Linked DNA regions of Homo sapiens. The protein of the gene in region 1 interacts with the protein of each later gene in a biochemical or structural test. Each region holds a gene or a part of one and is shown on either strand. Other genes may lie near its edges.

Region 1 (7,626 bases):
GACTGTAACAAGGGTTATGGGAGTTATGAGCCAGGAAAACGTTGTATATATACAGAGAGAGAGAATCGTAATATCATAGTATTTTTTACAAATTACAATAATTGTTAAAAAGTAACAATAGTAAGCAAGATGGTTTGAGCCACTGAAGAATGCAAAACTCAGAGTCCATTTAGAACTGATCGTCAAAACGGAGAAAAGGGAATCACCTCTGTAGAAGGAAGAAATACAGAAGACAAAATGCAGTCCAAAAAAAAGGGCTACTGTATTGATAAATTCCATTAGAGATAAATGGAAATCCTTTAACAGTTTGTAAAACTGCTGCCAAACATTTTAAACATCATGTAGATCAGTTCATACTCCAGGTCATAAAGTATGAAATTTCTTCCACAATTGACAGGATCAGTGTGGTTAGGGAACATTAAGTGCACACTTCTAAGTACAAACTATAAGGTTTTATTCTACACAGTTACACTACTTTATTAGTCAACAAAATCAAACTATTAGAGCAAAATTACATATGAGTTTCATGTTTTCTTTTAAAAATCGATCTTCTACGCATGATTCTAGTTTTTAATAGTGTTCAGTGCCATTGCCCATGTGGTTTCAAAAAAAACTTTAATAGGATCTACATTAGCATTTTTCTCTATTTTTGCTTACCTTCGGAAATCCTTCCTTTTCAGCTAGTATTACTTTTTTAAAAAGAAGAAAAAAGGCCTACAAAAGTCCAGAATTACTAAAAAAAAGTCCTTGAAATGAACAGCCACATATTAATCACTTTTCTCCTCAGCTCAAATGTTAATTAAGCAAGTTGTAATTTAATCACTGATGTGCAATCAGAATTCATTTTACATTAATCAAACAGTAGAATATAATAATATTCAAAACCTGAGGCTTTCTTTTAAAGAGGAGCACTTCAGAGTGCTTTTGTACCTACCACATGTGAGGCATTAATTCAAGTTGGAGGACAATGACTCAGCTTGAAGGAAGGCGGAGTGGAGTAACAACCTCCCCATTCCTTTAGGAAAACTTTTCTTTCTGGCTAAGGGAGAGGAGAATGAAGTGGTTGAGAACATGCCCTCAACGTTCTGAAGACATGGAGAGATGTGTGTTACTTGTTATGTGGCTCCCTAAAAAGAAACATTACCAGTTAGAGGGACTTCAAGTAACTGAGGCCACCAATTTCTACTTTCGCTCTACTTTTTCTGGGAGTGGAACGGTCAGGTTTGCCAGTATTGTGAAAATCCATGAGGAAGCATTACTTCTCTCTTCCACTTGCCTCATTCTGAGTGGAACCCCAGAACCTGGTGTAGGGCTTAATAATCCAAGAAATTATTTTGAGTGGAGAATCTCTCACTCTCTGGCTCTTTTCTCCCAATAGTAACAATAATAATGCCTCACTTGTTAAGAGATACCGTGGTTATTGAAGTATTTTCTCAGCAAACAGATACTTCATGTTTGGGTGTATTAATGTAGGAAGATAAAGACACACATGCAGTGTTTCCTAAACTTTTTGGCTCACATGCTTCTTTGCTCATGCACAACCTAGACAAAACTATGTAACCAACTCCTGTGTACAGTTTCACGGAATTGCAGGTGCCTAACAAGATTTTCTTTTAACTACACCTGCTCACAAAATTTACACAGTAACTTGAGACAAACGTTCACAGGAAGTAGATAAAACTTTTCAATACACCGTTAAAGTCTTTCCAAAAATCTATTAACATTAAATTGTTTAGAAATTCTATACAAGTCTACTACTGTATTACCAAATAAATTCTTAAGCAAGAAAAGGGGAAAACTATCTTTTCATGCTTTCAGGCCAGTAACTAGCACTTAGTCTTCTATGTAGGGAGGTGCCCAATAAATACCGAGAGACGAACGGAACCGCTGAATCCCGTCCGCGAGGTTAGGGGAGAAACAGAAGCGGCAACGTCTCTGCTGCACGAAGCACCCGGTAACTTACTGCCTACCCCTCACTCCTGTCTAATCTTTGCTCTCAATGGATTGCTGGGTTGGTTTTGTTTTATTCATTTTTGTTCTGAAGCAAGGAAACTTAACTTCACGTGGAGGGCCACTGTAAACTGCTGCCTCCCTTAAAAAATGCATAACGAGAAGAGTAAGTTAAAACGTTTGGGGCCACACAGAAGGTTCTAGAAGTTCTGCAGACCCAAGCTGCCACAGTCCTTAATCGCATGGAATCTCACTGTAACTTTTATCTCCTCTGATTTTTTTCCGCTCCCTAACACCTAGGTAAATTAATCAAAGTGTGGCCACCGATAACGCCCTCACAGGTTTAGCTTAAATCGAATGCGTTTTCTCTCGGACTAGGGGAGATAATCCAAGAAACAAACAAAACTACACCACGTCCATCCACAACAAATCTCAACAAGCAACTTCGGTTGCCGCAGCCTCACTGTGCCCCAGGCCCCGGCCCGCCACACGCGGCCTCCGTCCGCTAACCGCCCGCGAACCGCCCGCGCGGCGAGCAGAACGCCCGAGACCGCCCGCCCGGAGCTCACCTGAGCTCCAGCTGGTCCAGGCTCTCCAGCAGGCGGCTGGAGCGGTCAGCCATGGAGGAGGAGCGGCAGAAGCGCCCCTCGTTGGCTTTAGCGTTGATCTTCGCCTGAGCCATCTAAGCCTCCGACGCGGGGTAGCCAAGAGGTCACCGGCCCCTCCGGCGGCAGCGAGTGGAGCGCTCCTTGGGCTGCAGGCGTCGCCGTCACCACGCGGGCGCCCGCCCTCCCTCTGACGCCCGCGGGGGCAACCCGGGAGGACTCGCCGACACCGCGGCTGCAGCGTAGCCAAAGAAGGGCAGGCGCGGCGCCCGCGGGGCTCGGGGACGCCGGGCCTGGGAGGGGGCTGCAGCGGCTGGAGTTAGAGGTTCGCGAGCCACACGGGCTCGAGGATGGGCCGACAGGGGCTCGGGCCTGGGGAGCGCAAGTCTCTGAGGCACGGGAGGGGCGGACGCAGAGACCGAGCGCCTAATGTGGCTAGCGGATCGTCTGCTCCCCGGACCCAGGAACTACCCGAAGCCCGCGCGGACCCACAGACCACCCCCAGCTCCGCCCCGCGAGGCCCCGCCTCTTCATGCAACCTAAAAGTAACCAACTCCCCCCACGCGAAGGTTCCTATCGGTCGACGGGCTGTGGGTGTATTGCTCAGTGACGGCTTCGTTTAGTTTCTCCCAGCACCCATAATTCAAAGCAAGAACAACGACATTATGGGGAGAAAACGTCCTTTTGTGAAACAGAAGGCAGTAAGTACAGCTCGTAGGCAGCCCACACTCACCTGACCTTCCTGTTACCACTTTATACTGAGATGAGAGTAATGAAAGCCCGGACAACACTGAAGCTATGAAGTAAAAAAGAAAAAGCTACTCCATCTTTCCCTGTCTAGCTAGATGTGGGAAGCAAAGTGAATTTACTTCATTTTTACCATTCTAATTTTCTTTTGTTTTTGAGATGGGGTCTAACTGTCGCCCACGTTGGAGTGTAGTGGCGCGATCACGACTTACTGCAGCCTCGACCTCCCGGGTTCAAGCGGTCCTCCCACCTCAGCCTCCCAAAGTGCTGGGATTACAGATGTGAACCACCACGCCTGGCTTAATGAAGGGGTTTTAAATTTTTGCTATTAAAATTATTCCTGTTGAGCGAGCCGAGATCTCGCCACTGCACTCCAGCCTGGGCGATAGAGCGAGACCTTGTCTCAAAAAAATAAATAAATAAATAAATATTCTGAGTGAAATAATTGGCATTAAAAAGTCCTCAACTTTTAAAAATCCTGTTAACAAAAAAGATGCAGTAGGCCTCTAGGTCAGGCACCAGCTGTCGGTAAAAGACGGAATAGAGCTGAGGATACAAAGATTAGTCTACTTAAAAAGTTAGGCTTTAGTCCCCTCTCCTGATAGCTCTATGCCTCTCATTGCAAGGATGACAATGTACAGGGCACAGAAAATGATAGATAATAATAGTTTAAAGCTGAGCCACCACCTTTAATCAGAGATCAAAGCCATTTAAATACTTGAACAGAGTTGAAGCCCTTAAGGCTGGATCCCAATTCCCTCTGAACTCATTTTAAATCCTAATTAACTCTTGGGGTAGGGGATTATTTGACCTTATTAAAAATAACTTTATCATGACACAAACGAAAACAAAACACATTTTGTGAGTGGTTTGAAAGTCTATCAAGTGACTTTAGAATCATCCTGAACTCTTTTTCTCTCTTATCCTAGATCCACACCATTAGTAAACCCCATCAATTTTGCCTTCAGAATATATCCAGATTCTTCCCAATTCTACCGCCACCATTCTGGTTCAAGCTACCTGGTGAGTTTGCACCTGGAATACTACAATACCTTCCTCTCTGGTCTCCCTGCTTCTACTCTTGCCTCTCATGTACATGTTATCTCAGTGCAGCAACTACAGCAATCCTAAATAAGGCAGATCATACCATTTATTCTCAGAAACCTTCACTGGCTCCTTACCTCAAAGTAAAAGCCCAGGTCATTAGAAAAACCTCAGTAAGTTCATTTCCTATTACTCTCCTAGCTCATCCTGTCAGCCATACTAGTCTTCTTGCTTTTCCTTGAATATACTAAGCTCCTGTCTGGACCTTAACCTCCTCCACCTGGAACTCTCTTCCCGATATGTATTTTCATCCTCATTCCCTCACCTTCTTCAGGTCTTTGCTCAAGTTTACCTATCAGTGAGATCTTTTCTGACAACCCTATTAAAAATAGCAAGCCTCCCCCCAACTCCCTGTCCCTGCACTATTTATTCCCTTCCCTTCTTTATTTTCCGTCGTTACACGTATCACCATCAGATATGCAGTTTTATTGCCTTGCTTACTAACATTGTACAATCCCCTCCTCTCCACCAATATGTGCTCCACAGAGGGGTAAGGGCTTTGTTTTGCTTACTGGTATATTCCAAGTGCTTAGAACAGTTGCTGGCACATGGTGGGTACTCAATATTTTGTGATTGAATGAATTAATGAGTGAATGATGTAATGAAAAGATAAGCATCTTTGTCAATGTTAGAAACATTTACTTCTGACGATAATCCATATAGCTTTCTCTGATGTTACACAGCGATTACATCTCCTTGTGTCTAAATTAAAGTCAAAGTATGAATTTTAAGATGATTTTTAATTATTTAACAAGTAGAAATACGATCAGTGACAATTATCAATTAAAACATTAAACAACCCAGTTACCTTTTCTTAACAGTCATGATGAAATATCCCTTTCCTGTCTTATCAGAAGCCTTAATTATTCTCTACCACACACACCACAAAAGCTTCTTAATAGAGCATCAGTGTCCATCACACCTTTGTGTAGAATCTCTGGCAACAAGGTGCTGTCTCCTCTTGCCCTGCCCCCACATCTGCTTAACTACTCTTCTTTCTGGAATGCCTCTTTTGCTCCCATTTTGTGAGCTCCTGCAGATGTGTTTAAGGTCCAGCTCAGTGACTACCTCCTAGAGCCTTGCTTGACCACTTAAACATACAAACTAAAAGCACAATGTGGTCATTTCGGAAAGATGATTGATAAATTCTCAAGCCACAATGTCTAGTTTTTAAAAAATGCAAGCAGGGAGGAACAGAAGTGACATATCAAGAAATTAAAAACACAAATTATAGATTGAAAAGACTATAGTAATAAAAAAATTCAATTTCACACTAAAATATTTAGTGTTACAGAGAAGGAACCAAATTCTAGCCTTTATATTTTGTCTTAAATATAAAGAAAAGCTTTATATTTATAGAAATGTTTTTAAGTTTGGTAAATAATTACTACTAAAAATTTTTAGAGATAAGACATTTCTGGTTAAATAACATGAAGCATATACACAAAGATAATATGACAAGCCCTTCTTAGTCTTCTACTTATGTCGTATTTTTTATTACTCACAATGGGGCCTCAATATTTAAGAATTAAATATGTAATACCAAATGAAGGAAACTGACAATTCAGTGAATAACTAAACTGAAAACACTTCACATGAAATAAAAATTTAAAGAGTTAAGGAAGATTATTCCTGAGTAGGCTTTCAACATTATTTCTTGAAGAATATTATGTTTACACCAATATATAAAAAAGGACTGTTATGAAAAATAATTTTATGCAAATATTCTGACACCATTCCCTTTAACCAGGAGACCATACAAGTCACATAAAAGTCTAAGCAGGTAAAAGGAATGGAAATTGTTTCATTTAAATTATTTCTTAAAAATTAAGGTGTATTTTTTATTTTAGCAATGTGCTGCTCTAATTAAAGCAATAATTTACATATGCATGGCACCCACAAAGAACATTGCTGATAAAATTTTAAATGTTTCCATGATCAGTTTCCATTACCCTCTTCTAATAAACATAAACAAAGATCTCAAAGGTATTATATAATAGTGCCACATGAGAAGTAGAATTTATGGAAAACTTGACCTATGTCACCTTTTTTATATTCATTTTCACTGCTAAAAAAATAAACTAGCATCATTTGTACAGTACAAATAAAATTAAAGAACTAATGCTATTTGGGAAACAACTGTCAAGAGCTTTCCTTTTTTTTAATCCTTTAAATCTAAATATATAAATTCAAAGTTAACTGGGAAACTGTTACACCTATATTAGAATACATAATTTATATTTGCATGAACATGTATTCTATTTCTTCTGTACATGTTTGCACATTAGCACAAAAATACAAAACAAAGATCAGATTTTGAACATATGAAAGCAAAAACATGTTTTCAAATACATTTGTAATAGTGGATTTCTGGTCTCCTTTAGAAAACAAACTCAAGAATTCGTTATCTCAGTCTCTTCAAGGCCACTTGATGTTGTGTGGTAATATCTTTAATTACATTTCCTCAAGACTTCTTCTAATAGCTTCTTCTAATTCCACATCTGCATTAAAAAACATAGAATTTTAACACTTAGGGCAGAAAACTCAACATGTGCTGTATTTATTTAAGTTTCATCGACTGTATTCTTTTCAAGAAGGAAAGTAAAATCAAAATGGAAAAACACAGGATAACTTGGCAGTTTCTCTACTAAAAAATTGAGTATTTTGAAATATGAAAATCTAGACATGATCTTGAATTGAATTTTATATATGAACTTAGAACTTGCAAGTTAATTCCACTTAGGAATGTAGAAAGTCAACAAACTTTTAAAATCACTGACAGGTAATCATTTGTTTCAACATTTAAAAAAAAATCTGTATCACTTATTTGCTAAAAGACTTGAGGTGATACATATAAGACTTTAAACAGAAAGGCAACTCCATGAAATGACAAAATGTCACAGGCCATTAAAAATTTAGTTTAATTTTTAATTATACCTCAATAAAGCTGGGGAAAAATTAGCTTAAAGCATCCTAGCATCTAAGGTAGTGAAACTCATAGCCACATAAATGTCATCTGAGAAGCATATAATATATGCTGTATGCAGATGTATGTAAACTCATTTGACAAATATTTATTGAATGCCCATTATATACCAGGAACAGCAATGTAATAGTGAACAAGACAGACGTTATTGGGTTCACAATAGTTGAGTTCCATCTCCTCCTTGGGAATGATGCTAAAATCCAGGAGGGTGAAATTTGGTGTCAATTTCTTGGC
Region 2 (7,025 bases), on another chromosome or scaffold:
CCGGTGGTGGGCAGTGCTCTGAGAGGTGTGTGACTGTGGCAGGGCTTTCAGGACCGAAGCGACGGCCACTCACAGAGAGCTGGGGGGGCGAGCCACTGCCTGGGTGATGTCTGCTCAAGTTCCACCCACCCTCCGCAATCCAGAAGTCTTCCCAAGTATTCTCCACCTGAATTATGTGGAAGTTTCCTGACTTCTCTACTTTCCAGGACAGCTCTCCTTGGCTGGCGGGACTGGTTTTTCCACTCTGGCTGGTGTCAGACATACTCAGAAGAATGAACATCTAATGACATGTTTGTCAAAGTAATGCGCGTCCTGCAGCCCATGCCCAGCATCTCATTGACAGCTGCTCTGTCAGCTGGCAAACTCTACGCCCATCAAAGCTTTCCAACCATTCCTCTTGCACCGCAGGCGAGCTGACTGCTGCTGGTGCTAATGAGGTTGAGATTGTCACACACCTTCCTGGGACACAATTGTGTTGCACAAACACACAGCGGGCCGCACGGCAGGGCAGACACACACAGACCCCAGCCTCACACCAGCTGGGCAAAGCCCCCCACATCCAGGGGCTTTGAAAGGATTAACCATTGTAAACAAACATGAGCTGAGGTCACGCAAGTCACAACAGGTAGGGGGTGTGAAAAGGCGTGCCTAGTACACAAATAAAAAATTAAAAATACCATTACCCCAACACCCAAGAGTAGACACTCTTTTTTAAAGTGTGGGTCTTTTTCTAACGCACACGTGGAAGTATAATAAGAACGTCGTCGTTTTCAATCACGTTATCTTCCAAGGATTTTTAAAGCATGAGAAAGCTGTCCCTACATAATTTTGAGTGTCGTTAGTTTTCCTTCTGGCGGCCAACTTTTCTCAGCCGGAGCTGGAAATTAGGCCTGAACAGTGTTCCCTGAGTGAGGCTGGTGGATTTGGGGGGTGGGAGAGGGGAAACAGGGCTCCCTATCATCCCAGGAAGTCTAGGAGAAGGTGGGATGGGACAAATCCAGCTTAGGCTCTGGGGACATGTGCAGAGGGTGAGTCCTGCGGGGGGATCAGCTGCAGTCATAGTAAGTCAAGTATTCCGCATTTATTCCAGAAAGACTTCAAGGCAAAGAGGCCAGTGGAGGCAGATCTAACTTTGGATGTAAGCACAGGAGGTTTACCGTTTAGATTCTAAACACAAATCATCAGTACTTAAATAAACAATAATTTAAAAATAACTTGCAATATTATTCGTCTGGATGCAAAAGAAGGCAAAACAAAACAAAAAGCAATGTGTAGATATTGCAGGAAACATAAACAGCACCGATGAGCAAAGCACAGTGACTGCAATCCCAGCACACAGACGTGGCCACACGCCACCCTTTGAGCATTACCTGCTCCTTGGCTGTAGTCTTAGTGTACACATTTATTAATATATTCTGCGAAAATGAAATCCAACATGCAATGCGTTAAAATTGGGCTTTACAGAGGGAGCACTGTAGGCTTTAGTCCCTGGAATTAATAACTTCTGTTAGTGAGCTCCAGGGCTGGGGCTCACAGGCTCAGTTCTGCTGGTACCACCTGTGGGACCTTAAAACTCTGAGTATGGGTATAAATTAGTAGCTTCTCACCAGATTCCTTATGAGGATTTGGTTATTATTGTAATTCATTAACATGTAACATAATTTTCTTAATGCTAAACAGGGGACAGAACTTTCTGGGGTGTTTCAGGCTATCTTCCTCTCCTCTTCAACTCTGTGTTCTCTGTATTAGGTCACTGCACAAACACCTCCCTCATTCTCAGGGGTTCCCAGGGTGTCACTTCCCTGTCCTGTCCCTACTTCAAGCTCCTTGAACAGTACACAGTGAAGGCTGCTGAGGTCACGTCAGGGTCCTTGGCCCTTGTGTGTGTCCCTTGGGTTATACAGAACAGGGATAGCAGGGATTCCTGAGATCCCACTGGGGAAAGAGGCCATCAGAGCAGAGTCAGGAGAGGACACCTCCTAAGGAGCAGTGCCAAGCTCAGATGCAGGCCTTTAGGGAGAATCATGGGGGCTGGGGAGTGCCACACTTTGGCCTTTCGGAACACCTTAACATTTTCTGGTTATCTGTCCTGCCACGAGCTTGGAGGTGGGGATGGGTTTGTCCAAAGCCCATTGCGCCCCGGTCCCTGGGACCTGTAAGAATCAACGGGGGATCCCTGGGGACCTAGAAACGCAGGCTGTCTGTGCCCCAGGCCTCCTGAATGAGATTCTGCATTTCATCAGGATCCCCAGGGGACATGTGCACCTGATAATTTGAGAAGTGCTGCTCTATGGGACTCAAACCATTTAGATGGCCTGATTCTCAACTTTAGCTACACGTTAGAATCACTAGGGAACTTTGAAAAATTAGCCATGCTGGCCGGGCGCCGTGGCTCACACCTGTAATCCCACCCCTTTGGGAGGCTGAGGTGGGTGGATCACTTGAGGTCAGGAATTCTAGACCAGCCTGGCCAACATGGTGAAACTTCGTCTCTACTAAAAATACAAAAATTAGCTGGGCGTGGTGGCGCACGCCTGTAGTACCAGCTACTCAGGAGGCTGAGGCAGGAGAATCACTTGAACCTGGGAGGTGGAAGTTGCAGTGAGCTGAGGTCATGCTACTGCACTCCAGCCTGGGTGACAGAGCAAGACACTGTCTCAAAAAAAAAAAAAAAAAAAAAAGAAAAAAAGAAAAGAAAAAGAAAAGAAAGAAAGAAAATGAAAAAGAAAAAATTACCCATGCTTGTTCACTCCCCGCCCCCCTGCCCCAAGATGCTGCTCCAGTGGGTCCAGGTGGTGCCAGGGCCCTGCCGGTTTGAGCCACTACCCAGTGACTGTGTGGGCCGTGGTTGAGAAGCACTCCTTTAGATCACCAACTGTTGACCAGGAGGGGAGGGAGCAGCGCCTCCTGTGGGCTTTTTCAGATGACACAGTCACCTACCCTACAGGCCCCAAACAGACCCAAGGTCCCTGTCCCCACCCTCGTCCCTCAGGGCTGCGAAGAGGAGCAGCAGGAGGATAAGGGAGCCTCACGTGCACTGGAAAGGTGGAGGTGCTACCCCCAAATCGGGGACTGCGTTCTATCACCCACGCCACCTCGATCTCACACCAACAGAGCAAGGTCTTCCTACCACACAACTGAAAAAAGACACACGTCTAATACAAAGAAAAAGAAAATTTACAAAGATGCAAGTTGAACACTCTGGAAAGATTTAGTGCTGGGCAATGTCAAGAAGCAAATTCGTTTCCCATTTCATAATGTGATGGATGTGAAACGACACCTTCCAGAAACATCACCCTGGTCAGCTGCTGGACATTTCAGATGGAGTGAAAACACTCAAACAACTGAACAAAGTGTCTGCCAAGCCAGGTACAGTGGCCGATCGTTAGTTAACACGGTTAAGGGTACAAACGTGGGCCTCTCAGACCCAACCTGTTGACCCTTTCACCTCCCATAGTGTGGCCTAGCATTTAAGAATGAGTGTTGCAGCATTAAGACAGGGTTCAGATGGCAATTCTGTGATTTCTGAGTTGTTGACCTTGAACACGTTTCCAGGCTTCTCTTACCCTCATGTTCCTCAGCTATAAAACGGAAATAAAAGTACCATGTGCCAGGTTGTCGTGAGGATTTTATGACATTATTTCGTAAAGTTCTGAACTTTGTACATGTAGTGCCTGGTACATACTAAGGGATTGACAAATATTTGTAAACGATGATATCCTATTGGTCTTAAAGGTGGTGCAAGTGTAGCGGAAAATCTGGCAAAATACGTGCCAAGAGCTTAACGATGTTCAAGACCAATCATTCAACTTCTGTAAACCTGCATTACAGAAATAACCTTGAAACCAGGTATGAAGAGATGGGAAGGAAATGCTCTCAGTAGGAGTAAACAACTAGAAGCAACCCAAATGTCCCACAGGAGAATAAGGATTAGGTCAATAACTGCACATAGCACTCCCGCAGATAATGATGTTTGTTTTGGTTCGGAGTACTGCCCAATTTATGAATCATTTTTTGATCCAATTATTAAATCGTAAAAAAATAAAATAAAATAAATGAAATGATGTTTCACTTGATTGCGGGAGCCAGGTGGTGCCCTAAGCAAATGTCACTGATGGACGGTGAAGAGAAAAAAGCAACATGCAACATTACATACACCTTGTAAGTACAATAAGGTTAAAACAAAGTCCCCTAAACACAGAGAAGCAGAGACTAGGAGAGAACATGCCAAGATGCTCATTGTACTTGTGTTTGAGATAGCGGGATTCTGGATGATTCCTTTCCCTTCTTCCTTTTTTTTAAATTATTTTTTTCAATTTTTCCTTAATAAACATGTATTATTTTTATAATGAAAAAACAAAACTACATCCTTTTTCTTAAAAGTTCTTTAACCCAGCATGAAGTGATGTCCCAATTGTTAAGATCTGTGAGTCCACAATAAATTTTGTACACTGTTCCTCAATTTTTAGAATTTAAGAGTCCCAAGATATATTATATGATGAAAGAGCACCAAATGATGGACATTTGATTTCCACTGGTTGAGAACTCCTTGTTCTTACATAGCCTAGACACCCTGCAGGATGAGCATGGCAGGTCACACCCAGGCAGGCATAAGCACAGCCCTGTCCTTACCGTTAAGCGTCTCCATGGCACGTTCTGGACACACAGCTGACTCCTCCGGCCCCACACACCAGTACATGCTGGGGGGTCTTTGCGACATGCCAGCCATCAACCCTTGCAGCAGCCGATCTTCAAAGGCAGGTCCCGCTGTTGTCACTGCCACTGCCGCTGGCTGTGGGGTGCATTAAGGCGTGGACTCGTAGCCATGGCTGAGCAGAAAGCTTTCTTGCTCTGGTGGCGAAAAACAATCAAAACAGAAAGCCTTTATAATTCCTGTCCTCCTCCCCTGCAAATATTTGCATGGGTTCATTTAGTTTTCCCTCTGCAACATTCCTTTTTGTAGTCCATCTATCCAGCCAAACCCATCAGGTGTGGTCAGTGGGAAGGCACAGCTCCCCCCATCCCATCTTGATGCGGGGCTCAGGTATTGTCTACCTGAGAAGAGTCTCAAACAAACCCCAGACAATTGGAAAACACATACTGGTAACAGCTTCAATCATTGTTCAGTCAACGCACACCTACTGTCACATGCAAGGTAGCCAGGCTCTGTGTGAGGCTCAGTGGCACCAAGATGGCTCAAGGAGGCTCTTGCCCTCAGGGGCACACTCCAGTGGGGGTAGGGCAGACATAGTTAAGGTTAGTCACGATACAAGGCTCTCCTTTTGCCCGGGGCCAGTTCTTCTGGAAGCCAGAGGTGAGCACGTCATCCCAAGGGGGTGGTCAGGCAACAGTTCCAAAGACATGGAATTATTACTGGTTATGAAGTCAAGTTAGCATGAGCTTTAGCAGAAAGCTAAATGACGGAGGTTAGCAGACATGAGCCTCAAAAATTCTGCCCCTTTCCCAGGGGACATTTGGCAATGTCTGGAGACATTTTTGGTTGCCACAACTTGGCTGGGGGAGAGTGCTACAGGCCTCTAATGGGTAGAGGTCAATGATGCTGCTAAACATCCTACAATGTACAGGACTGCTATTTGCAACAAAGAATTATCTGGCCCCAAAAGTTCCAGGGTGGAGTTAGACTAATCTCTGAAACTAATGACTATGATAAACTGAGACCAAGTGCTGCTCTTCTATGCTGGGCCCCCACTGAGCTTAGAGTCCCCCCATGGGCATAAGTGCCCATCCTGGTATGGTGATTGAAGGACCAGAGGGAGGGTAAGACCCATGCCTAGCTCAGGCCTGACATGAGGTACTACCATAAGTAATGCATGTGCGCCTATCCTTGTTCTTATAGCATATCCTACATGTGATGAAGTACGAGGTAATTAGCACCTCTTGTCTGTGTTCTCTCAGATAGACAACTCTGAAATGGGGAGTGATAGTGCAGCCAAAAATATATTTTTTAAATCAAGGTTATATAAAAATAATGCCTAAGAGAATCTGTACAGGCAAAAGCATAGCGTGGACGTTAAAGGTGTGGACTGCCTGTGTCACATGTTCGCAGTGTGACTCCCAGCTGAAAGGTATGTGTGTCTCAGTTTTCACCTGTTAAAAATAGACATCCACCCTTATGCCCGGGCCTGCTAGTGGGGTTACTGTGTGAATTCAACCAAAGTGAAGTTTCTGCAGCCTCTCTCTACGACAGGGCTGGGGTGGTCATTACCTGTAGTACCAGCGCACAGACTTGGAGGCCAGCGGGTCTCCCACTTCCCTGCTAATTAATAAGATCAGAATATCAATGCTGGAGGGCAGATGCCAGCCTCACCAGCGGGTAGGTTCTAGAAGATGCCGTGAGCAGTAGGGGCACGAAGTAAGGTACAGGACAAGGCTGTGGGAATTTCTCACCTAAAAGCCTAGAACTCAGGCACCTGGCCCAGGTGGACTGGACTCGTCAAGGCAGGGAAAGGTGGAGCTAGAAAAGCCAGGCTCCAGCAGCCTTGTGCAAGCTGCACATGTTTCAGAGGCAAAAGGGATGGTCGACACAAACCACGTGTGGGAAACACCTGTGTTTGAAGTTGGGAAGCCTGAAAAGTCGAAGGAGGAAAGGAAAAACGATCAATCTGGGCAAAATTTAGGGGATGATGAAAGCCTTATAAATAGCAAAACCTGATTTGGAAAATCAACTTGTGACAGAGAGAGGAAGAGCCAGCAAGACAGAATCTGTTTTAAAATAAACGTTCCGATCACACATTCACATCCAGAAACTGAGAAGCACAGTTGCCATCTGCTTTCAGACACCTCTCCAAAACAGCTACCGCACATAACCAACAGCATTTCAAAAATCCAAACGCTAGACATTCTTCCTGAAAACAGAAGTGTCTTACCATACAATGTTTTTAAGTTCTAAAAAAAAAAAAATCTTAAAATTATTTCAGGCTAACCCTCACCCAGCACATTTTGTTCCCCTTTTCATTTTCAGTTTCCTTTTGAAAATCACTTTACCAGTGGAAGACTCTGCCCCT

What was found. The genes of interacting proteins can lie anywhere in the genome.
Region 2: the proteins of BAG2 (region 1) and LRRK1 form a complex in vitro, tested with the Homo sapiens proteins (2 studies listed by BioGRID and IntAct, with this or other methods).

The regions. Positions count from the first base shown.
Region 1 is NC_000006.12:57,167,704-57,175,329, reverse strand, and holds the start of BAG2 (BAG family molecular chaperone regulator 2), read right to left. Parts: upstream 3,005-7,626; 5' UTR 2,633-3,004; coding exon 2,520-2,632; intron 2,461-2,519; exon of another isoform or gene 1,869-2,460; intron 1,128-1,868; exon of another isoform or gene 949-1,127; coding exon of another isoform or gene 935-948; intron 1-934. Other genes in the region: E3 SUMO-protein ligase ZNF451, read right to left, coding at 6,861-6,907. UniProt on the Homo sapiens protein: Co-chaperone for HSP70 and HSC70 chaperone proteins. Acts as a nucleotide-exchange factor (NEF) promoting the release of ADP from the HSP70 and HSC70 proteins thereby triggering client/substrate protein release.
Region 2 is NC_000015.10:100,922,337-100,929,361, reverse strand, and holds part of LRRK1 (leucine-rich repeat serine/threonine-protein kinase 1), read right to left. Parts: intron 4,852-7,025; 5' UTR 4,730-4,851; coding exon 4,633-4,729; intron 1-4,632.